Regions from separate parts of the Homo sapiens genome. Here region 1 is linked to region 2. Evidence: fine-mapped expression QTL. Tissue or cell type: whole blood. Region 2 holds a variant in brackets; the other region holds the start of a gene. All regions are shown on one strand. Distances are from middle to middle.

What was found. PIP is the estimated chance that this variant, and not a neighbour inherited with it, causes the effect.
Region 1: ACER2 starts here. The variant in region 2 is fine-mapped to the expression of ACER2 in whole blood (INTERVAL, PIP above 0.99).

Annotation. Positions count from the first base shown.
Region 1 is chr9:19,403,537-19,414,258 of GRCh38, forward strand. ACER2 (alkaline ceramidase 2) reads left to right here and starts at 5,473. Exons shown (of 6, transcript NM_001010887.3): 1 at 5,473-5,656. The coding sequence starts at 5,549. RefSeq lists enhancers at 4,443-5,300, 5,301-6,156, 5,569-5,718 and a silencer at 5,179-5,468.
Region 2 is chr9:19,443,862-19,454,583 of GRCh38, forward strand. It overlaps ACER2 (alkaline ceramidase 2), which reads left to right. Exons shown (of 6, transcript NM_001010887.3): 5 at 2,420-2,557; 6 at 6,589-8,644. The coding sequence ends at 6,775. Among named protein-coding and RNA genes, the nearest start is that of MAP1LC3BP1, 14 kb to the right of the region's middle. RefSeq lists enhancers at 2,198-3,397, 2,336-3,082, 7,905-8,124. The variant C/T (reference allele first, on the strand shown) is at 5,200.

The DNA of each region.
Region 1 (10,722 bases), 40 kb before region 2:
CTGGAGCCCTGTTTTCTGTTGTTTAAGATGTTTATCAAGACAATACGTGCACAGCTGAACAGAGACCTTTATCAGGAGTTTTTGATTTTGCCCTTTGCCTTGTGATCTTTATTGGCCTCAGAAGCATGTGATCTTTGTTCTCCTTTTTGTGCTTTGAAACATGTGGTCTTTGTGACCTACTCCCTGTTCGTACACCCCCTCCCCTTTTGAAATCCTTAATAAAAGTTGCTGGTTTTGCGGCTCAGGTGGGCATCACGGACCTACTGATATGTGATGTCACCCCCGGTGGCCCAGCTGTAAAATTCCTCTCTTTGTAGTCTTTCTCTTTATTTCTCAGACCAGCCGACACTTAGGGAAAATAGAAAGAACCTATGTTGAAATATTGGGGGTGGGTTCCCCTGATAGGATAGAGGTTAACATTGTGGTTTTCCAGTGCAGGTTAGAAAAAGGAGAGAGGGAACAGCAGAGTGGTGCAGTGGAAGCATACCTATGGGCCCATAACCCAGAGGTTGATGGATGGAAACCATCCTCTGCTAGCTTTGTGATCTTGGCTGGGTGTGGCTGCTCACACCTGTAATCCCAGCACTTTGGGATGCCAAGGTGGGAGGCTCACTTGAGACTAGCCTGGGCAACATAGCAAGACACCGTCTCCATAAAAAGGAAAACAAAAACAAACAAACACACACACACACAAGAGAGGCATTTCTAAATAGAGGCCTGCTGACAACAGCAGAATTTACCACTGATGGCCTGTCAGTAAAGGAGCGGTGCCTGTCCCAGCTAACACAAGCACCTTCTGCAGTGGCTGCAGCAGTGTTTCCCTAGTGAGGACCTACTTCCTACAACTCTCATCTACAAGTCTGAGCCTGAAAACGACCTCAGATTTTAGCAAAACAAGCACAGTCTTGCTGGCTTCTTCTGTTTTCCTCTGAGTTGAAGGGGTCCAGGGCAGACTCAGAGCCCCTGGTTTCCTCATCATGAGCCTGAGCATGAGTCAGAATCACCTGAGGGCTTATGAAGCCAAAGGTTGCTGGGCTCTATCCAGAGTTTCTGATCCAATAGTTCTAGGGTGGGGACTGGAACTCACATTCGTAAAAGATTCCCAGGGGATGCTGCTGCTGCTGGGCTGGCCTTAACCACTGGCTTAACAATGGGCCACAAGCAGGACCACAGTGAAAAACTCTAGTCAAACAGGAAGATACAGAAAACTTCATCCTTGATCAGGCACTTCTTGCTTCATTTACACAGGTGCCTGCATTTTTTACCCAAGGGAAGACTTTGTGACTTGATAATTTCCACTTGTGGAACCAGTTGAACTGGATATTTACTATCAGATATTTACTTATACCAAATAAACATTGTTATACACTATGTAAAAATAGAAGGTGCTGTCATTCTGAATTCCTTGCAAGGGCTGTTCCTTCAAACTTGCTCCCTTGTGGATCTGTATCACTGAGTCATGTAGGCCAAAAGCATCGTAAGCCAAATAGTTGGAACTCAGTAGTTCTGTTCCTTGCTGTCACTGCATCCTTCCCTCAACAAACTTAGTTTAGAGTAGACATCAGAATTTTGTATTCAACCACTAGCAGTAGTTTCTAAGGCATCATGCAATTAATATAAATCAATTTTAAAATTTATAACCTCCTGATAGGCCCTCTTGTTAAATTACCAATGTTGTATTTATTTTAAAAATGTTGGCTGGATGCAATGGCTCACTCCTATAATCCTAGCACTTTGGGAGGCTCAAGGGATCACTTGAACCTGGGAGTTTGAGACCAGCCTGGGCAACATGATGAAACCTTGTCTCTACAAAACATACAACATTTAGCTGGGCATTGTGGTGCACCCTTGTGGTCCTAGCTACTCATGAGGCTGAGGTGGGAGGGTCGCTTGAGTCTGGGGTGGGGGGGTCAAGGTTGCAGTGAGCTGAAATTGCACCATTGCACACCAACCAGGGTAACAGAGGGTTACCCTGTCTCAAAAAAAAAAAAAAAAGTTAACAATGTTAACAATGGGGAGAGCTATGAAAACAAAATTTTAGAGACAGTGTGACTCAAGTACGGTTTCTGTGCAGTTGTAATTAGAAGGAACCAATGTGGCTGACTGATTTTGAACTACAATTGTCACTGACAATAAGAGTTACTGTGGAGGATGAAAAACTCCCATCATTCCCTTAGCAAGACTTGGAAAGAAGGATGAATTACATTCAGCAAATTTAATATTTCACTGGTGCTAAAACTCACATTGTTTTGCGTTGTTAAATCTCTGAAATCCTGATGCATTTTACCAAGAATGGCATTTTATGATTATGGTTGGCTAGGTCATGGTTGTGATGTGGTGTCACTGCCTGCATATGTACAGACTTGGTGGTTATTCCTGGTGGGATGACTTGGCAACTGTAATCTCCATGTTTCTCTCAACAGATTATATAAGGACCATCTGGAAAAGAAACATGCTGCCTGTTGTCTGGAAACCTTCCACTGACACCTTCAGGTAAGATCAGGAGAGTCCCAGCATCAAAATTTGTAAAACAGGTGTCAGTAGTTTGCAAGAAAACAGTAGTGGAATAGTTTTAAGAAATGCTGCATTATTAGCACATAGTAATTAAGGACACAGAGGACATTTCTATATGAATGACACAGACATCAATGACTATAAGCTGAAAAATGACTCAGAAGAACAGAGATTCTGAATGTAAAGAAATTACAGGAATTCTTTAATGAATTTATTTTTGCTTATACCTTCCTTCTTAGGTATGCACAAGAGATGTATGATAACAATGTAAGTCTAAGTCTGTGCTTGTTCACTAAAAATTCTAAATGATAAAAAAGTATTACAAATAGTTTAATTGGAAATATTTCTTTTTTTTTTTTTTTTTTTTGAGATGGAGTCTCGCTCTGTTGCCCAAGCTGGAGTGCAGCGGCGCGATCTTGGCTCACTGCAACCTCTGCCCCCTGGGTTCAAGCGATTCTTCTGCCTCAGCCTCCCGCATAGCTGGAGGTGCCCACCATCATGCCCTGCTAATTTTTGTATTTTAATAGAGACGGGGTTTTGCCAAGTTCACCAGGCTGGTCCCGAACTCCAGACCTCAGAAGAGCTGCCTGCTTTGGCCTCCCAAAGTGCTGGGATTACAGGCATGAGCCACTGCATCCGGCCAGGAACATCTTTTTAACAGCAACTTTCAATCTTTTTAGTCTGAGGACCCCTTTACACTCTTAAAAAATATTGAGAACACCAGAGAACTTGTGGTTTATATGGTAACATCAATAGTTACCGCATTAGAAATTTAAACAGACTTTTAATACCAAAGAATCACAAGCACATATTCCATTAGCTGTCGGAGAGATAATGACATCACACATCATGTATCCTCTGGGAAGTTCCAATGTACACTGGTAAGAGAATGAAAATGAAAAGAAAGGGAGGAACCACACTTTGAGAATCTCTGGCATATAAAATAATGGTTTTTTAAAAATACCATTATATTTTGATGAATATGGATATATTTCCAAGTAAACTGTTGTTGGAAGAAGTAAAATATTGACTACAGGGAAAATTCTATTGCTGAACAGTTGGTGTAGCATTTTGAGACACAGAAATTAACTGATGTATCTTTCTTCTGTGGCTGTGGGAAACATCCACCCCAACCGCCCTTCGTTTTTGAGATGGAATCTCGCTCTGTCACCCAGGCTGGAGTGCAGTGGCGCGATCTCGGCTCACTGCAAGCTCCGCTTCCCGGGTTCACGCAATTCTCCTGCCTCAGCCTCCTGCGTAGCTGGGACTACAGGCGCCCGCCACGACGCCCGGGTAATTTTTTGTATTCTTTTTTTAAGTAGAGACGGGGTTTCACCATGTTAGCCAGGATGGTCTCCATCTCCTGACCTCGTGATCCGCCTGCCTCGGCCTCCCAAAGTGCTGGGATTACAGGCATGAGCCACCGCGCCCGGCCCTCAACCGCCTTTCTTAGGTGGCCAGCTCACTCCGGGTATCCTGTAGGTCTGGGTAAATCAACCCTAGGGGAAGGTAAGAGTGTATCTTCTACTTGGGTTCTGGAGGGCAGTGGAATTGCCCGTAAAGCAGGAGGAAGGGATAGAGGTTGGGACAAAGATGAAAGGAGGAGTGTGGTTTGGCCCCTGGGGGACAAACCTGGATTTTCTAGAGACTAGGAGAGGCGGCGGGGCTTGCAGTTTTTGTCAGTGATGGAGATCTCTGGGGACTTGCACATGGCTGTGTGGGTACTGGTGGGCAGACAAACACTTGGTGCAGAGGACACTGAAGCACCACCCAGGGTCCTGCTGGGCAGTCAGGCCCAGAGAGAGGGCAGACCCTGGGGAGTTGCTGGCCTTTAGGATACCCTGCGGGTCCGAGCAAGACGTCCTAATGACAGTCACCAATGGGCTGCTGCCCAGGGCCTCTTCTGCCGCTGTCCTGACCTAGAATCCTACAACCTTTCAAGGAAGGAGAACGGGAGCCACCACATACACACAGAGGGTGGCTTTCCTCTAGGGATCCTGGGAACCAGATTGGCTTTCATTTACAAACCGCAGAACAGTTACAGAAGCAAAAGAAGGTAGTTATGACTGGATCTGAGGACATCTTGCCTGAATTGAATTTCCAGCTCTGTCACTTGCTAATAGAAGCCCCTCACAGGGTCTCTGCTGGGCACACTAAATGAGTGATACATGGAAACTCTTCAGACAGCACCTGGCATGTGTATGTTATCTATCACCTCTTGAACCTCGATATCTTGGAGATGTCATAACTGCCACACTACATCCTCTGCAGTTTGGGATGGCTGACGTTTGACCCTTTGCCTAAGTCCCCATATCGAAGGCTAGATTAAGCCTTAACGCTGGAGCCAAGGGGAGGGAGGGCAGGAACGTACTCTAAATAGAAGTGCTCCCCCGGGGACTGGGCGGCCCAACCTGCTCCAGCAGCCGGGAAGGTCTTCCTGCCACAGTGACCGCAGCGAGTGGCGTCCGGCCTCGGAGGGACTGAGGGCACTTCTCTGGTGTAAGCACTGGCGTCCAACGCCGGACGCAGCAAAATCGCTGCAAACTCTGGGTCCAGAGAGGTCCAGGTCCTCCCGGGTTTCTTTTTATTTTAAATTTTTTTCCAGGGAGAGTTCTGGCGCTCCTTCAATCGGGGGAGGCTGCGAGTCTGAGCCAGGAGATGGGCGTGGGCAGGCGTGGGTAGCACCATCGAGGCCCTGGCCACCTGCCGGGTGCTGGGTAGTCTGGAAGAGTCTGGAGCCCGGTCTCCGCCTCCAGGCGCCCCACCCTGGACCCCTCCTCCACGCGGGTCCCGCCCCACGGTGGGCGTGGCTTCCAGGGGGAGGGGCCGGGGAGGGTCTGCGAACGAGTAACCTCCCGCAGGCGAGGCGAGGCGGGGCGGAGCGCGGGAGGCCAGTTGGGAGGCGCACATCCGGCGGTTACCCGGTGCTTCATAAAGCCGCTTTCGCCGCTGGCTGTCGCCGCGTTTTGCCTCCGCAGCAGCTCTGGGCTCTTCTCAGCTGCGCGAGCAGCTGCTCCAATGCCCCGGAGTGGCCATGGGCGCCCCGCACTGGTGGGACCAGCTGCAGGCTGGTAGCTCGGAGGTGGACTGGTGCGAGGACAACTACACCATCGTGCCTGCTATCGCCGAGTTCTACAACACGGTGCGGGGCGCGGGAGCGGGGAAGGCAGGCGGGCCAGCGGGAGGGGGCTGTTCCCGCGCCGCAGCGTCTGGAAGCTGGACGTGGGTCTCTGCGCGCATCTGGGGGCATTCTCTCCAGGGGCTGAGTCAGTCCACACCCCCTCCTCGGCGCGCTCCTTTCAGTTCTCCATCTGTCCTCCTCTCCTGTCCCCATTCCCGACAGCTGGGCTCATCTTCCTCCTGCTGTCATTTGTTTTGTGATGGTCCTATTGTCTTGTTTGGCCCCCACGCGTCCAGGAACCAGGGGTCTGTGTCAGCCCATTCTCCTTGTTTGGGTCAGCTGGGGGCGGTGAACCTGCCGGGACAAGTCTCTTCCTCCCCTGGGATCTCTGTGGCGTGACGCACTTGGGTCGCATTGTGCTTTTTTGCCCTGAATACCTGCTCTCGGAGTGCTGGGAAGAGCACGCCCCCCGCAGGTCCCCGCGGCTGGGGTCACTCCCACCAGGCAGACTTGCCCCACCCCCAAGAACATGCCTATAATGGTCGAGTTATTTTTGGTCAGAATCAAGTTAATTACTACTTGTTTTTTTTTCTTGCCTTTAGTGTCCTGTCTTGTGCAAGCCGCTAATTCAACTCCCCCAGGACTGTGCTTTCTCCAGTTCTGAAGTCTGAGGGATGAAAGGAAAGTTTGGGAGTGATAATGTGCGGGTTTTGGATTTGCCTAGGTCCCTAGATAAGGGTGAGCAGAAACTTCCCCATTGCAGAATCCTGTGTGATTTTAGTTCTTGTGGTAGGGAAGGGTTGCAGCTGGGAGAGGAAATGCCTCTTATTTTGTGTATGTCCATGGCTCAGAATCCTGGTACAGAATGTGAGACTTTGCGTGGTCATTTCTGTGGCTTATCTTTTCACCGCCCAAACAAGGGAAACAGGAACTCCTGGTTTGGGTCATTGTGAATTTGAGGTTGTTGTTTAGGACTTTTCCTTTTGGATTTGCTAGAGAGAATGTCTTCAGCAGGAGTCAGGTGCTTACTGCCTGCAGGAATCTCAGATGATCTAGTCCCTGTCCTTTTATTCATCTGATGAGAAAACTGGGCTCTTGAGGAGGGAGCTGTCATGCTCACATTTCTGGCATGGCTGGGGCCACAATCCAGAAGTCTGGGCCCTTCCTTCCCTCAGTGCTGAAATCCATGGCTGGCTTCCACACAAACACTCCTGCTCCTTTTTTTATGATTAGGTTGGTTCCTTAAGAAAACCTAAGGCTGGGCGTTGTGGCTCACACCTGTATTCCTAGCACTTTGGGAGGCCAAGGCAGGTGGATCGCTTGAATCCAGGAGTTCGAGACCAACCTGGGCAACATGGCGAAACCTCATCTCTACAAAAAAATACAAAAATTAGCTGGACATGTGGCACACACTTGTCGTCCCAGCTACTTGGGAAGCTGAGGTGGGAGGATCACCTGAGCCTGGGAGTTGAAGGCTGCAATGAACTGAGATCGCGCCACTCCACTCCAGCCTGGGCAACAGGGTCTCAAAGAAAACCTGGCCCTCTGCTGACCACAGATACTGTGAAAGACAGTGGAAGTGGCCATGACTTATGTATTGCATAACCTCCCAGAGCATGCTGTCAGGGGTAAATAGTTGCACACAGAGGATGGGCTGGAGTAGTTCTGGGTACTTTCAATAAGGAGAAACACCAGTGGTAACACAAGCTGTCCTTTTGTAAATAAAGAATATAGTGAAAGAGTAAGGATTTCACCAGAGTTCAAGAAGAAAAGACAGCTTGATGACAGGTTCTCACACACTTAGCAAGATTATTCTCTGTGCAGCCTGGGGTCTACAGAGAGGGTCAACCTTGGTTATTTTGGCCAAAAAAGCTAGTGTATGGCTTCTCTGAGTCTGTCTTGAAAAGTGTCATAGGGCTGGATGAAAGGGAGAGTTTGTCTTTACTTTTAATCTAGTCCCATTGGAGCCGTTACTCTATGTAGTGAGTGCTAAAGTCTTTTTCAGAAACTAACTGTTGATCTTCAGCTGCATTGTCTGGCTGATGAGCCCAGCTGGCCCATCTGACAAACTTTATTCCTTGGAATACTCATAAACCACAAAATTTGCTCTGGCAAAGCAGAGAGCGTAAGGTGTCAGAGAATAAGGTCATTGCCTAACTTTGTTGAGTGTAGGTCCAAAGAATTTAGCAAAAAACGTTTCTTCCCCTCTGTTGCTATTTAAAAAAATTTTTTTTTGAGATGATCATGCTCTGTTCCAGGCTTGAGTGCTGTGGTGCGATCTTGGCTCACTGCGACCTCCACCTCCAGGTTCAAGCGATCCTCCCAAAGTGCTGGGATTACAGGCGTGAGTCACCATGCCCGGCCTTCTTCCCCTGTGTTCTTACGTACTACTTATATTTTGATGCTTATCACAGGACATTCCCATGCTTATCTTACTCCTGTGTTGAGAAAGACAGTAGACTGTTATGTGGTGATAAATATCGTCTTAAATCCTCATAATAAGGCAACAGGTCTAATTACCCAGTTTATAGGAAACTCATAATCATTACCAGTTTTGAGAAAAAGTTGGAGGAATTGACAATGTTAAATCAGGAGAAGACCGGGAGAGGGATCTAGAACCTTCTTAATGGGTCTTAGGGGTAGCACATCACTACTACACCTTCAGATACTACTGTCTACCATTACTTAATTGCTATGTGTTGAAGCTCTGCTGGGTACTGTATACTCATTCTAGACAATGGGTGCTATTTATTATATCCATTTGATAAAGATGGAAATTGGGGCCTAGAGAGTTTATGTAACTTGCTGTGGTCAAGAGCATAGCACAGCTGAAGTCAGAACTTGGTCCATTTGACTCTACCAAGAGAGTTATCTTGAAGCTATAAGTGCCACTGTAACTAACTTAGATTTATCTATTTGGCATAGAATAGATATTTATTATTTAGTCATTCCATAACTTAAAACTCCTGTCTTGGGATCATTTTATCTCTAGGATAAAACTCATACTTTTTGATAGGAAAAAAGTTTATTTAAAGTAGTTTGTAAAATTACTGTTTATTGTAAAAGTAATATGATCATGGTAAAAAATTTAGAGTATGTAAGTTGTAGAGTGAAAAATAACCTTCTGTATCTTTCTAGATATTTTCTAGGCATATAAAAAGCACATGTATCTGTGTGCATATAAAATACGCATGTATAAGGCTGGGGGCAGTGGCTCATGCCTGTAATCTCAGCACTTTGGGAGGCTGAGGCAGGCAGATCATTTGAGGTCAGGAGTTTGAGACCAACCTGGCCAACATGGTGAAACCTCATCTCTACTAAAAATACAAAAATTTAGCTGGTTGTGGTGGTGCGTGCCTGTAAGTCCCCGCTACTCAGGAGGCTGAGGCAGAAGAATAGCTTGAACCTGGGAGGTGAAGGTTGCAGTAAGCTGAGATCGCGCCACTGCACACTCTAGCCTGGGCAACAGAGCAAGATTCTGTCTCAAAAAAAAAAAAAAAAAAACCAGCATGTATGGCGTAATCACGAATACTTGAAGTTTTTTTCCAAGATGGTACTGTGTAAACTCTTATGTACCTTGTGTTTTTCACTTAATATGTCTTGGAGATATTTCCATATCAGCTCATATAGTGCTCTCTTCCTGTTTATAATGTTTATACAGTACTCCCTTTAATGGATTGATCATAATTTATTTATCTAATCAATCCTTATTGATGGACATTTCATATAGTTTCTCTCTGTTTTATTGTTTTCATTTTGGTTTTTGAACAGTGATTCAGTGAATATCCTCATTCATGCATCTGGATGTACTTTCGCAAGCACTAATCTTAGATGGGGATTGCTGTGTCAAGGAGGATATTCAGTTTAAATGCTGATAATTATTGTGAAATGGCACACTAAAGAGAGTGCACTGATTTGACTTCCACTGACAATGTTTGGGCATACAAAACATTTTGCTTTGGCCTCTGCAAATTTCTGTTGCCTCAAATTGTATCATCCTTTGCTTCAGCCAAGCCTAATATCTCTTCCATGAACATGTAATTTCCTTTCACAGCCTTTTACTTGTGCACATTTTATACTGTTTCTTCTATATACAAATTTTATTAATTGAGTTCCTTTTTATGTTTTAAGATTTAAGACCCCCTGGCTGGGCGCGGTGGCTCACGCCTGTAATCCCAGCACTTTGGGAGGCTGAAGTGGGAGGATCACTTGAGGTCAGGAGTTTGAGACCAGCCTGGCCAACACGGCGAAACCCCATCTTTACCAAAAATACAAAAAACTAGCCAAGTGTGGTGGTGTGTGCCTGTAGTCCCAGCTACTAGGGAGGCTGAGGCAGGAGAATTGCTTGAACCTGGGAGGTGGAGGTTGCAGTGAGCCAAGATGAGGCCACTGCATTCCAGCCTGGGTGACAGAGCAAGATTCCATCTTAAGGAAAAAAAAAAAAAAAAGAAAATATTTAAGGCCCCAGTCACATAGACCTAGCCACTTTGGAGAAAAGCCGGGTCTGCCTTTTACCTGAGCTTGGCCTTTGGGGACTCTGTTGCTCAGCAGGGACTTGAGGACAGAAGAAAGTCAACTGATCGCTGAAAAGAATCTTGAAGCAAAATACATGCATAAAATCAGCTCATGATCTGTCACTTCCTGCTCTGTCCCCAGTCATCAAGATAAATAGAGCTCTCGTTATATGCCAAGTCCTAAGTCCCGCTCTCTTCAGGCTGAATCTATCGGTCGATCCATCAATCTGAGCATTTGCTGGGCAACAACTGTGTGCTTATTCCAGAGACCAGCTCTGTAAATAGTCATATGGGTGGTGAGGGCTATGATAGAGGTGTGTACAAGCCGCTGAGGGTGTTTTTAGTACTGTGCATGGGATTGATGTACTGTGAGGATAGGGTGGTGGTTTTGCAAGAAGGCTTCTGAATAGAGTGACCAAACTTGTCCTGGGTTTTTGCCTGAGACTTTTCTGATTTTAAAACTGAACGTCCCATGCCTTGGGAAGCCCCCTCAGTCCCAAGCAAACCACGACAGTTGGTCATCCCAGGGGCAGAAGTAAAACAATGGAATGGGTAGTTAGGAATCAGCACACA
Region 2 (10,722 bases):
GGCCAGGCTGATCTCCAACTCCTGATCTCAAGTGATCCTCCCACCTTGGCCTCCCAAAGTGCTGGGATTACAGGGGTGAGCTCCCGGCCTCTAGGCTAGTTTAATACCAGATGTTACACAGATAATAAATTCATAGTTTCAACTTGTGATGAGAGTTATGAAGGAACATGGCAGGGTGCCCTGAGAGAATGCGCTAAGGCAGGGGTGTCCGCTCTTTTGGTTTCCCTGGGCCATATTGGAAGAAAAATTGTCTTAGGCCACACAAAAAATACACTAATGATAGCTGATGAGCTAAAAAAAAAAAAAAGAAAAGAAAAAAAAAAAGAAAGTCGCAAAAAAAAAAAATCTCATAATGGTTTTTTTTTTTTGAGACGGAGTCTTGCTCTGTCCCCTGGGCTGGAGTGCAGTGGCGCGATCTCGGCTCACTGCAAGCTCCGCCTCCCGGGTTCACGCCATTCTCCTGCCTCAGCCTCCCGAGTAGCTGGGACTACAGGCGCCCGCCACCACGCCCGACTAATTTTTTTGTATTTTTAGTAGAGACGAGGTTTCACCGGATTAGCCAGGATGGTCTCGATCTCCTGACCTCTGGTCCGCCCGCCTCGGCCTCCCAAAGTGCTGGAATTACAGGCTTGAGCCACCGCGCCCGGCATAAAATCTCATAATGTTTTAAGAAAGTTTACAAATTTGTGTTGGGCCTCATTCGAAACCATCCTGGTCGGCATGCAGCCTGTGGGCCACGGTTGTGGACGAGCTTGCACTGAGGGGAGACCTATAGTATCTGGCATTGTGTGTGGGAAGAAGCCTGGAGACTGAGCCCTGGAGAGAAGGAGAGGGTGGGTCAAGGTGAGAGATGAGCTCTTTTTGAGAGGGAACCAGCCCAAAGGCGAGGCATTCAAGGTAGAGAGTGGTAATCGAAAGCGAGAAATGGAAATTGTTATCTCTTTGTTTTAGTAACTGGGAATGTAAGTCTCCCCATGTCATCGGCCTCTATTCTTTCTAAAAACTTTTCAAGGGATGTATTTAGCCTTCCTACAAGAGTATTTTGATTTGTTTTTGAACAGGTCTTTCTGAACCTGTCCCACTTTTATTGATGCTTTCGCTGATGTTTGTGAAAGGCATCTGGGAAGGGCACTAGCCAGTCAGGCTTTTAACACCTGTCTGTGGGTTCAACAAAGAGGAATTAAGCTTCTTCTCAATTGCAGATGTCGTGTTGTATTCTGGGTCCCATAGGAGATCTTGACTGACCCAGGAGTGGTCCCCTCCGGGAAGAAGGACGCTCAGCCACCAGCTGCCCCCAGGTGTTCGTCCCCAGGGGTAGAACTCACCCACTTTATGAGCAAGTCTTTGTCAAGGAAAGAAGACGGCAATTGAAATTTTCATTGAGCTGTTAGCATTTTTTTCAGAAAACCATTTTGTCCCAGTGTGTGTAAGAAGTTATTCCTTCATTCAACACATGTTGAGTGCCTTCTGTGTCTGGCACATTTCCAGGTGCTGGGATACAGCAGTAAACAGATTCCATGTCAGTGGATAAACACACACTGGAAACACATAAGTGAAACACAGAGGGTGTCAGGGAGGTTATAATCACTACCTAGAAAATTAAAGGAGGGAAGGAGGCCTTAGGGAGAGTCACCTGGGAGGTGGAGACAGGTGTTGAAATTGTTAAAAATAGCATCAGGAAAAGGCTTACTGAGTGACATTTGAGCAAAGATTTACATGTGAGGGAAGAGCATTCCAGGCAAGAGGGCACAGTGAGTGCTATGGTCTTGCAGGAGCATGCTTGGGATATTTGTGGAACAGCACAAATCCTGCAGTGGCTTGAGTATGGGCAGTGAGAGGGAAGAGTACACACGAGAGGAGGTGAAGGGGAAAAGGGAAGATCATGCATCCGGGGCCTTGTGGCCACTGTGAATACTTTGGCTTTCCCTCTGGTTAAACAGGAAGATGCTGGAGGCTGTTAAATTGGCTGTAGGGGCAAGGGTGGAAGGAGACTCTGATGAGATGGCGGTAGCATGGATCTAGATGGAGGTGGTGGAAAGAGGTCAGGTTTGAGATATTTTGAAGGGAGAGCTGATGGACTAGATGTGGGCTATGTGAGAAGGAGAAAGATTGGGAGAAGAATAGGTTATGGACTTGTTAAATTTAGATCCATATTAGGGTGCTCGTGTCAAAAATGTAGTTGGGTGTATGAGTCTGGAGTCAGGAGAGAAGCCTGGGTGGGAAGGGTGTCTGTGAGCCATCTGTGTACATATGGTATTTACATCCATGAGACTGTGGAGTGACTGTGTGTTGGGTAAGAACTTCAGTGTCTTGGGGTTGTAGGCATGAGAGGAACCAGCGAAGGAGACACAGGAAAGGTGGCCAGCAAGGAGGTGGAGACAAGGTCTGACGATGAGTGACTCTCTGGACCCCCGTGCAGGTGTGACAACATGCGTGTGTTTAAGCTGGGCCTCTTCTCGGGCCTCTGGTGGACCCTGGCCCTGTTCTGCTGGATCAGTGACCGAGCTTTCTGCGAGCTGCTGTCATCCTTCAACTTCCCCTACCTGCACTGCATGTGGTAAGCCCCTGCTAATGGGGAGGTGGCCGGGGACAGGTGTGTTTGCACTTGCTGTTGGGCTCTGTTCACCCTGCAAGTGGTGCACAGGTGTCCTGTGGGTTGCTGGCTTGCTTCTCTCCTCAGGTGGACGGTCAGATGGTTCAGAAGCCACTGAAAGCACACTTTGTAAAAAGCTGAATTGACTCCAGGGAGCAGGCTTAGCCGGAACGAAAGGCCTGATTGTCATGCTTAGGTCTGCAGTCTTTTACCTCTAACTCCATTATTAAAGCCTAAAGGAGCTTGAGAACTGAACCTGTAACCTGAGCTCTAGCTAGGTGTTGGGGGAGGGGAGAGGTAGGGGAAAGCTGGGGAAAGAGGTGATGTGAGGGCTGGGAGGGTCCTCAGTGGGAACCCCACCTTTAGGGCCTGAGAGACCAAGTGCAAGGAGGGGCCGCACTGGCCATTTAGAGACATTCTCTTCCATTATTTCTATAAGTGGGGACAGAAGACCAGAGAGCTAAAGTGAATTGTTTAATGTCACCCACCTGTTTCTGTAGAAAACAACCTTGGAGTTCAGTAATAGCACATTGGAGCGTCTATACTTTGGAATGCTCAGGATACACTAAGTTAAAAAAAAAAAAGCGGGTTACAAAATACATGCAGAATCCGATTCTGAGAAAGCTGGGGGAAATTGGAGTGGCTTTCTTCCTAGGAACTGCTTCAGCCTCAAACCCAGAGTGATCTTTCCTTTCTGTCCTCCAGGACTTCTGATTGCAAAAGATCACAAGGAGGAGAAATCTGCTGTAGGTTATCCCCTATAGGTAGGAGGAACCCAGAGAGGAATTCTAGTGGTGAAGAAATGGAAAAACTTTGTTAGATCTAGATTCAGGAAAAGGTTGACTTCTATCCAGAGATAGGCTAAAAATATACAATTTGATAGAATTCACTTAAGTTCCCTTGCTCATGTGAACTTTGATATATTTGCTATGAGACCCACCCTACTCTAAATTTAAGACTTGGGGACTTCAAGGAGTGTTTGTAAAAGACAAAATTCAAACAGCACAAGTTGGAGTTTACCGTCTTAGGATCCATTGCTCGATATTTTTTAGATTCAACTCAACTAATACTAGTGAATTTATATAGTTTATATATTTGTTGGGTTATAATTTCCAGATAACAAAATGTACAGATTTTAAGTGTATATTGTGAATTTTGAGAAATGTATACACTAGGTAAATATGACCTCATTCAAGATGGTCATTTTTATCTAAGTCCCCTGTCACACATGATTTAAGTCAAATTCGAAATTTAAACTATGTAATAATTTTGACTCAAACTTAATGTGTTTCTGAATTTGGTATATTTCTGCTTTGTTTTTCAAAGTTGAACCATATTTTCTTTCCAGTTATAAAATGACATATTTTTTATAACAAATTTAAACAACATAGAAGTATAGAAAGAATGGCTCTCATAATTCTATCCCCCAAAGAAACATAATTATTAACAGTCTGATGTATATCCATTGAGATTTTATATGTACACACACACGCACACATATATATGTCTACTTTTAAAAAAAATAGCATCATTCTATACACGATGCAAACTTTTTTTTTTTTTTTTTTTTGAGACAAAGTCTCACTCTGTTGCCCAGGCTGGAGTGCAGTGGGGTGATCTTGGCTCACTGCAATCTCTGCCTCCCGGACTGAAAGTGATTCTCCCACCTCACCCCCTGCAGGGAGCTGGGACTACAGGTGCATGCCACTGTGCCAGGCTAATTTATTTTGAATTTTTTTGTAGAGATGGATTTTTGCCATGTTGCCCAGGCTAGTCAGAAACTCCTGGGCTCGAGCAGGTCCACCTGCCTTGGGCTCCCAAAGTGCTGGGATTACAGGCATGAGCCATTGAGCCTGGCCCAAACTTTTTTTTTAACCAAATACTTAAATCTATACTACATAGATCTAATGCTATACAGACATCATTCCATACCAATACATATATATAATCTTCATTTTTGTGTCTAATAAATGCTTCATAATATGGACACTTTATAATTTATTTAACCAACCTCTCTCTGATAACGGACTTTGAGGTTATTTCTAATTTTCCACTTTTGCAAACACTTTATAATGAACATCTAGATTGATTTGAGTTTCTGAATATTTTCATATGTTAAATTAATATTATATATTGCTAAATCCAGAGAAACTGTACCATTAACACTGTTTACTGAAGTCTGTAAGAGAGCATTTTTTACCCACACTTTCACATATACTGGAAACTCTTAAATCTCCATTAACCTGTTTGAGAAAAATTATATTTTGTTTTTATTATTATGTCTTTTTAAAAAATTAGTATTTTTGTTGGGCATCTTTTCAAATGTCAATTTGTGATGTGTATTTCCCCTTTTAATTTTCTTTGTCTGGTCTATTGAGTGTTTCTATTTTTAAAAGTTCATATCAGCCGGGCGTGGTGGCTCACGCCCGTAATCTCAGCACTTTGGGAGGCCGAGGCAGGTGGATCACCAGGTCAGGAGATCGAGACCATCCTGGCTAACACGGTGAAACCCCGTCTCTACTAAAAATGCAAAAAATTAGCCGGATGTGCATGTAGTCCCAGCTATTTGGGAGGTTGAGGCAGGAGAATCGTTTGAACCTGGGAGG[C/T]GGAGATTGAAGTGAGCTGAGATTGTGCCACTGTACTCTAGCCTGAGCAACAGAGTGAGACCCCGTCTCCAAAAAATAAAAAATAAAACAGTTTATATTCAGCATCTAGGCTTGGCACATAGTAGACAGTCATTACTAGCTACGTAACTATGTGCCACTTATGCATATTTGCAACATTTTCACAAGTACAGAGAATAATACATTGAACCCCCATATAGGCAACACCCAGATTCCATAACTATCAACACGAGGCCAATCTGGTTCATACCATTCTCACCTACTTCCCACCCTGACCCTGATTAATTTCTTTAGTGTTCTTTGTATGTAGGGATTTAAACTTTGTCATATGGTACAAATATTCCCTGCCCCCCTGCAGTTTCTCATTTGTCTTTCAGTATATTAATATTTTTGTGCCATACTGGTTTTAAACTTTCATATTGTCACATCTGTTAATCTTTTCTATAGGATTTCTGGATTTTGTGTAATTTTTAAAAAGATCCCCTCCTCCCCAACATCAAAGTTTATAAAAATATTGTCTTTGGGCTGGGCGCAGTGGCTTACGACTGTAATCCCAGCACTTTGGGAGGCCGAGGCAGGTGGATTACCTGAGGTCAGGAGTTCAAGACCAGCCTGGCCAACATGGTGAAACCCCCTCCCTCTCTACTAAAAATACAAAAATTAGCTAGGTGGGCCTGGTGGTGGGTGCCTGTAATCCCAGCTACTTGGGAGGCTGAGGCAGGAGAATTGCTTGAACCCAGGAGGCAGAGGTTGCAGTGAGCCGAGATTGCACCATTGCACTCCAGCCTGGATGACAGGGTGAGACTTCATTTAAAAAAAAAAAAAAAAAAAAAGGATTACATGCTTTTAAATGGTCTATTGTTCGATAAAGTTTAATATAAATTTAAAACTTTGTACAGGTACAGTGAGGATAAATTTTTTAAAATTTCCACTAAACTGCAAAAGTGGTTTAACCAACATAAAATTATTCCTGATGAAGGACATAAAATATCTGTAACCAGTTGTTAAAGTGAGAAGGTGGGTTCTAATCAGATGTGCTCAGTTACTTCCATCTTAGCATCTCTGTTGTAAATCCTTGGGCCTCAGTCTTCTTGTTTGAGGCCCAAAGGCATTTATTTGCACATTTGTTCCTATTATCCAGCAGGACTATTTAAGAACATTCTAAAACGGGTCCCAAATTGCTGAAGATTTATCATCCTGCTATTCCAGGGATTGTTGGTAATCTTCATCCTTTCCTAATTAGAAGAGGCCCCTGGGCTGCAACTACAGTCAGCAAGGTGCGTGGGTTAGACCGGAAGAAGGAGCAGGCTAAACTCAGGGCAGCGGAGTCTTCATGCTCATCAGGTTCTCACCTCTTGTCTCCCTCTGCAGGCACATCCTCATCTGCCTTGCTGCCTACCTGGGCTGTGTATGCTTTGCCTACTTTGATGCTGCCTCAGAGATTCCTGAGCAAGGCCCTGTCATCAAGTTCTGGCCCAATGAGAAATGGGCCTTCATTGGTGTCCCCTATGTGTCCCTCCTGTGTGCCAACAAGAAATCATCAGTCAAGATCACGTGATGGCAAGATGGTGGCTGGCTTCTCTGCTTATCGCCCCTCATGCAGTGGGCTTCCTTTGCTAGGAAGACAGCCAAGGGAGTTCGAATAGTTGGGGTGTGGGCTATCTTTTCAAAAATCTATTTGCTGGGGCTCTTAATTTCTTTAGTGTTCTTTGTATGTAGGGATTTAAACTTTGTCATATGGTACAAATATTCCCTGCCCCCCTGCAGTTTCCCATTTGTCTTTCAGTATGTTAATATTTTTGTGCCATACTGGTTTTAAACTTTCATGTTGTCACATCTGTTAATCTTTTCTTTAGGATTTCTGGATTTTGTGTAATTTTTAAAAAGGTCCCCTCCTCCTCCCTAATGTGTCTGTGGACCACCTGGATTCCACTGTACAAGGGGAAAAGTGTCTATTCCTTTCCCAAAGATGGAAAATGGAGGGCTTAGGGACACTAGATGCATCTTTCTCAGCATCACTTCCAGATGCAGTGACTTGTTGGGCTGCGTCCTTAATGGCCATGGCAGAGCAGTCCCTTGGGGGATCCAGCCCTGTACAATGCATCTCTTCCTGGAGAAAGCTGGCCTGCTCCAGACCCCACCATTCCCAGGCGCCCTTGGAGTGGACTCTACTGATGACAGACAGACCCTCTGAGAGACAAGACCCTCTGACTCTGTGATGGAAGATGCCAGAGATTTTCCTTTGGGGTAATTGTCCTTAAACAAAACCAAACAGATGAAACACACACAGGACTTGTGGCTAAAAAGGCTAGTTTTTCACTTGCATTTCTCAACTAACCCAGGTTTTACATGCATCTGTGAATCCTTTTACTACTACCTCTGTGGAGAGATGGAGAGACTTCAGATAAACGTGAAGCTAATGAGTAAAACCCTCTCTGCCAAAACCTACACTCCACTTTAGGCCCTTCTTGAAGATGAGCACAATTTTTAAATACTGAGCACAATTTTTAAATACTGACATCACTTCCTCTTCCCCCTCCCACCCCAGCTCAGCAGCCTCAAATCTACAGAGAAGAAGAATTATGGCATGAACATTCCCACAGACCCACCATCTTTAAGACTTGACCTCTGTAAGTTTACCAAAGGGCTCCTCACAATTGTGGTGGGGGTTCTGGTTCAAAATTTGGAGCAAACATGAAGTTTTTGGAAACGTTTTCTCATTTGAAGCCTCCAGTATGCTGTACTATTCTGGAAATTACCTTCAAGAGTCTCACTTCTTGTTTCTGTTGTGTTTTCTGTGGGCATCATGTTCTTCACGCTTGCAGTAGAAGGTGCTTTCTCGGTTTCCCAGAGTATCCAACGGCTCACCTTTCTCAAGTGCTGGCAGTAGCTATGCACTCACGGGCTGGTTTGGGTCGCTGGTGCAGCAGCGCAAATCTGTTGCCTTCTGAATTTTTCTCACCTAATGTGACACTGGCTACAATGAATCTTCTCTTCATCGGGCTGAATGAAAGATTCAAGAACCATCTTCAAGGTGCATGGTGGGAATTATCAACCTCAGGGATACTCATTTTAACTCAGGCGTGTCCTGCTTTGTAACATTCCATTGTTGGGAGAGGGCAGGACAGGTGTGTTCTTCTGTGGGCAGGAGTCATGTCACTGTCCTACATATGTAAGAGTTGGGAAGGTGACGATTTTTGACACATCCAGGAACTCTTACTCTAGTTAGAATTTGTACCAGATCCAAGGTGAAAACCCCAATAAGCAACTGAATTTAGAGTTTAAAAATGAATGACTTTATGCTACATCTGTGGTTATCAAATTATATAGGTTGTTGAGAAGCAGAACGCTGTTTGTAGTAAGAAATCTTTGTGGAACCCCAGTGTGTGAAGTAAATTGTATGTTATTAAATTTATTTAAGGTTAAATTTATGGCATTTACTTAATAATATATGAGGTGGTGAAAATGCAAATTAACAAATTGGTAATTTCCAAGGTAGAAAAATTAGGTGTTGAATGAATGTATATGTTGGTTTATTATAGTTTTATATATATATAGAGAGAGTGTTTTGTTTTTGAGTCAGGGTCTTGCTCTATTACCCAGGCTGGAGTGCAGTGGTGCAGTCATGACTCACTGTAGCCTCTGTCTCCCAGGCTCAAGTGATCCTCTCACCTCAGCCTCCCCAGGAGCTGGGAGTACTGGTGCGTGCCTCCACTCCCAGCTAATTTTTGTATTTTTTCATAGAGATGGGGTTTCACCATTTTGCCCAGGCTGGTCTCAAACTTCTGGGCTCAAGAGATTCGCCCGCCTCGGCCTCCCAAAGTGCTGGGAATAGGCATGAGCCGTCACGCCTGGCCTAAAAAATATTTTTAAAATGATCTTTGAATTAAATATTCGTAGAATTTCTAATGTATCTCTTTGAGACCTAGGAGGTTGATGGAACAGAACTGCTGTTAAGTCCTTTGGGTTTCAAGTCTAGAATTTTTTAAAGGCAAATATCAGCTCATTCTTATTTTAGATTGACCTTATCAGGCATGGATTCTGGTCTCATCTACTTTATGGTATAAATGCTCCAAGGTAGGGGGTTTGGTATATATTTTAAGCCCGGCTTTTTTTTTTTTTTTTTTTTTTTTTTTTTTAATGTGAGAAGCAGAATGTGCTTCTAGAAACTGGTTTTAAAGAGATGAGCTGAGAAAGAAATGTGGAATGGAGTATATTTGAGGAGGACAAAACATAACTTCACTTTTGAACAGAAATCACTCTAGCTTGCCAGCATGGGATGTAAACCAAGAGAGTAGAAATATACCCATCTTATTTTAAGTTGGGTTTATGGCATCGCTCATATATGTAAAAGCACTACAAACTCTTTAAAGAAAATTGGGAAACTACAGAGAAGTCAAAGAAAAAAAAAAGTAACCCATATTTCTATTGCCCAGGTATAATCCTTGTTAATATTTTGGTTTGGTCTCCTCTTTTTTCCCCCAATATAGTTGTAAATAAATGATGTCTTTCAGAGTTGACATTTATCCTGTAGCTTGAATGGCATGTAAATGCCAGTTGTATATTTTTTCATGAAGTGTAGGTTTGGAATACACTAGAGTTAGCTATATGCTTGAATGCTGATCACTGGATTCTGAGACTGACTACTGAGTCTACCTTTTTAATCAAGCCTAACATGAATGGGCTCCAAAAAGTAATGAATGTAATTGTACTTTTTGATGTGCCTCTGCACTTGGCTTGGTGAGTCATCATAAATAGCTGTTAAATATGTGACTTTACAGATTTTGATATGTTCAGATTGTAAAAAATGAATAGTTTATTTCATTAATTGATGGGCAGTCAAGAATCTCCCTCCCTTCAGTAGGGCTGACACTTAGGAGTTAGGTCATGGTTGTGGTTACTTGGCATGGCTAATCAGATTTTGTTCTGGTCAGAATTTGCCCAAGATCAATACCCAGCAGAAACTGGAGTTAGGCTATAAAAAACCATTCATGTTTCCGAGTGATCATTTCAGTCAGCGATTCATGTTTTACAGTGTTTAGTTGTTGATTATTAGAAAAAGTAATATTTTCTTCCCTTTATGATTACATCATTATAAATCAAGTCCTTCCATGAACACATTTAAGGTGTGTGGAGATGAGATCTCTGAATCCATTTGGGGATGGGCTGCATTTTTGGGGAACTCTATGCCTGTCCAGTGAAGAGTGCCTAAAACATTAATTATAGATCAAAGATGTTCTGTTGAGGGACAAAGCTTGATGGTCATCAAACACAAGGCTTTGTAAAAATACGACCACCTATTCCACTTACTGGATCTGTCAGGTGTGTAAAACTTCTCTCGCCAGTTCATCATGCTTCCATGAGCCCTCAGGACTGGGATTTGAGCCTTCCTGGCTCTTTATCCCTTGGGGCAGACATGGAACCATCTCTGAGGGACCAGGTGGATGCTGAAGCTCACCCAGTCAGGGCCCCTCTCCTAGCTCCTTTTACACTGAAATTAATCTG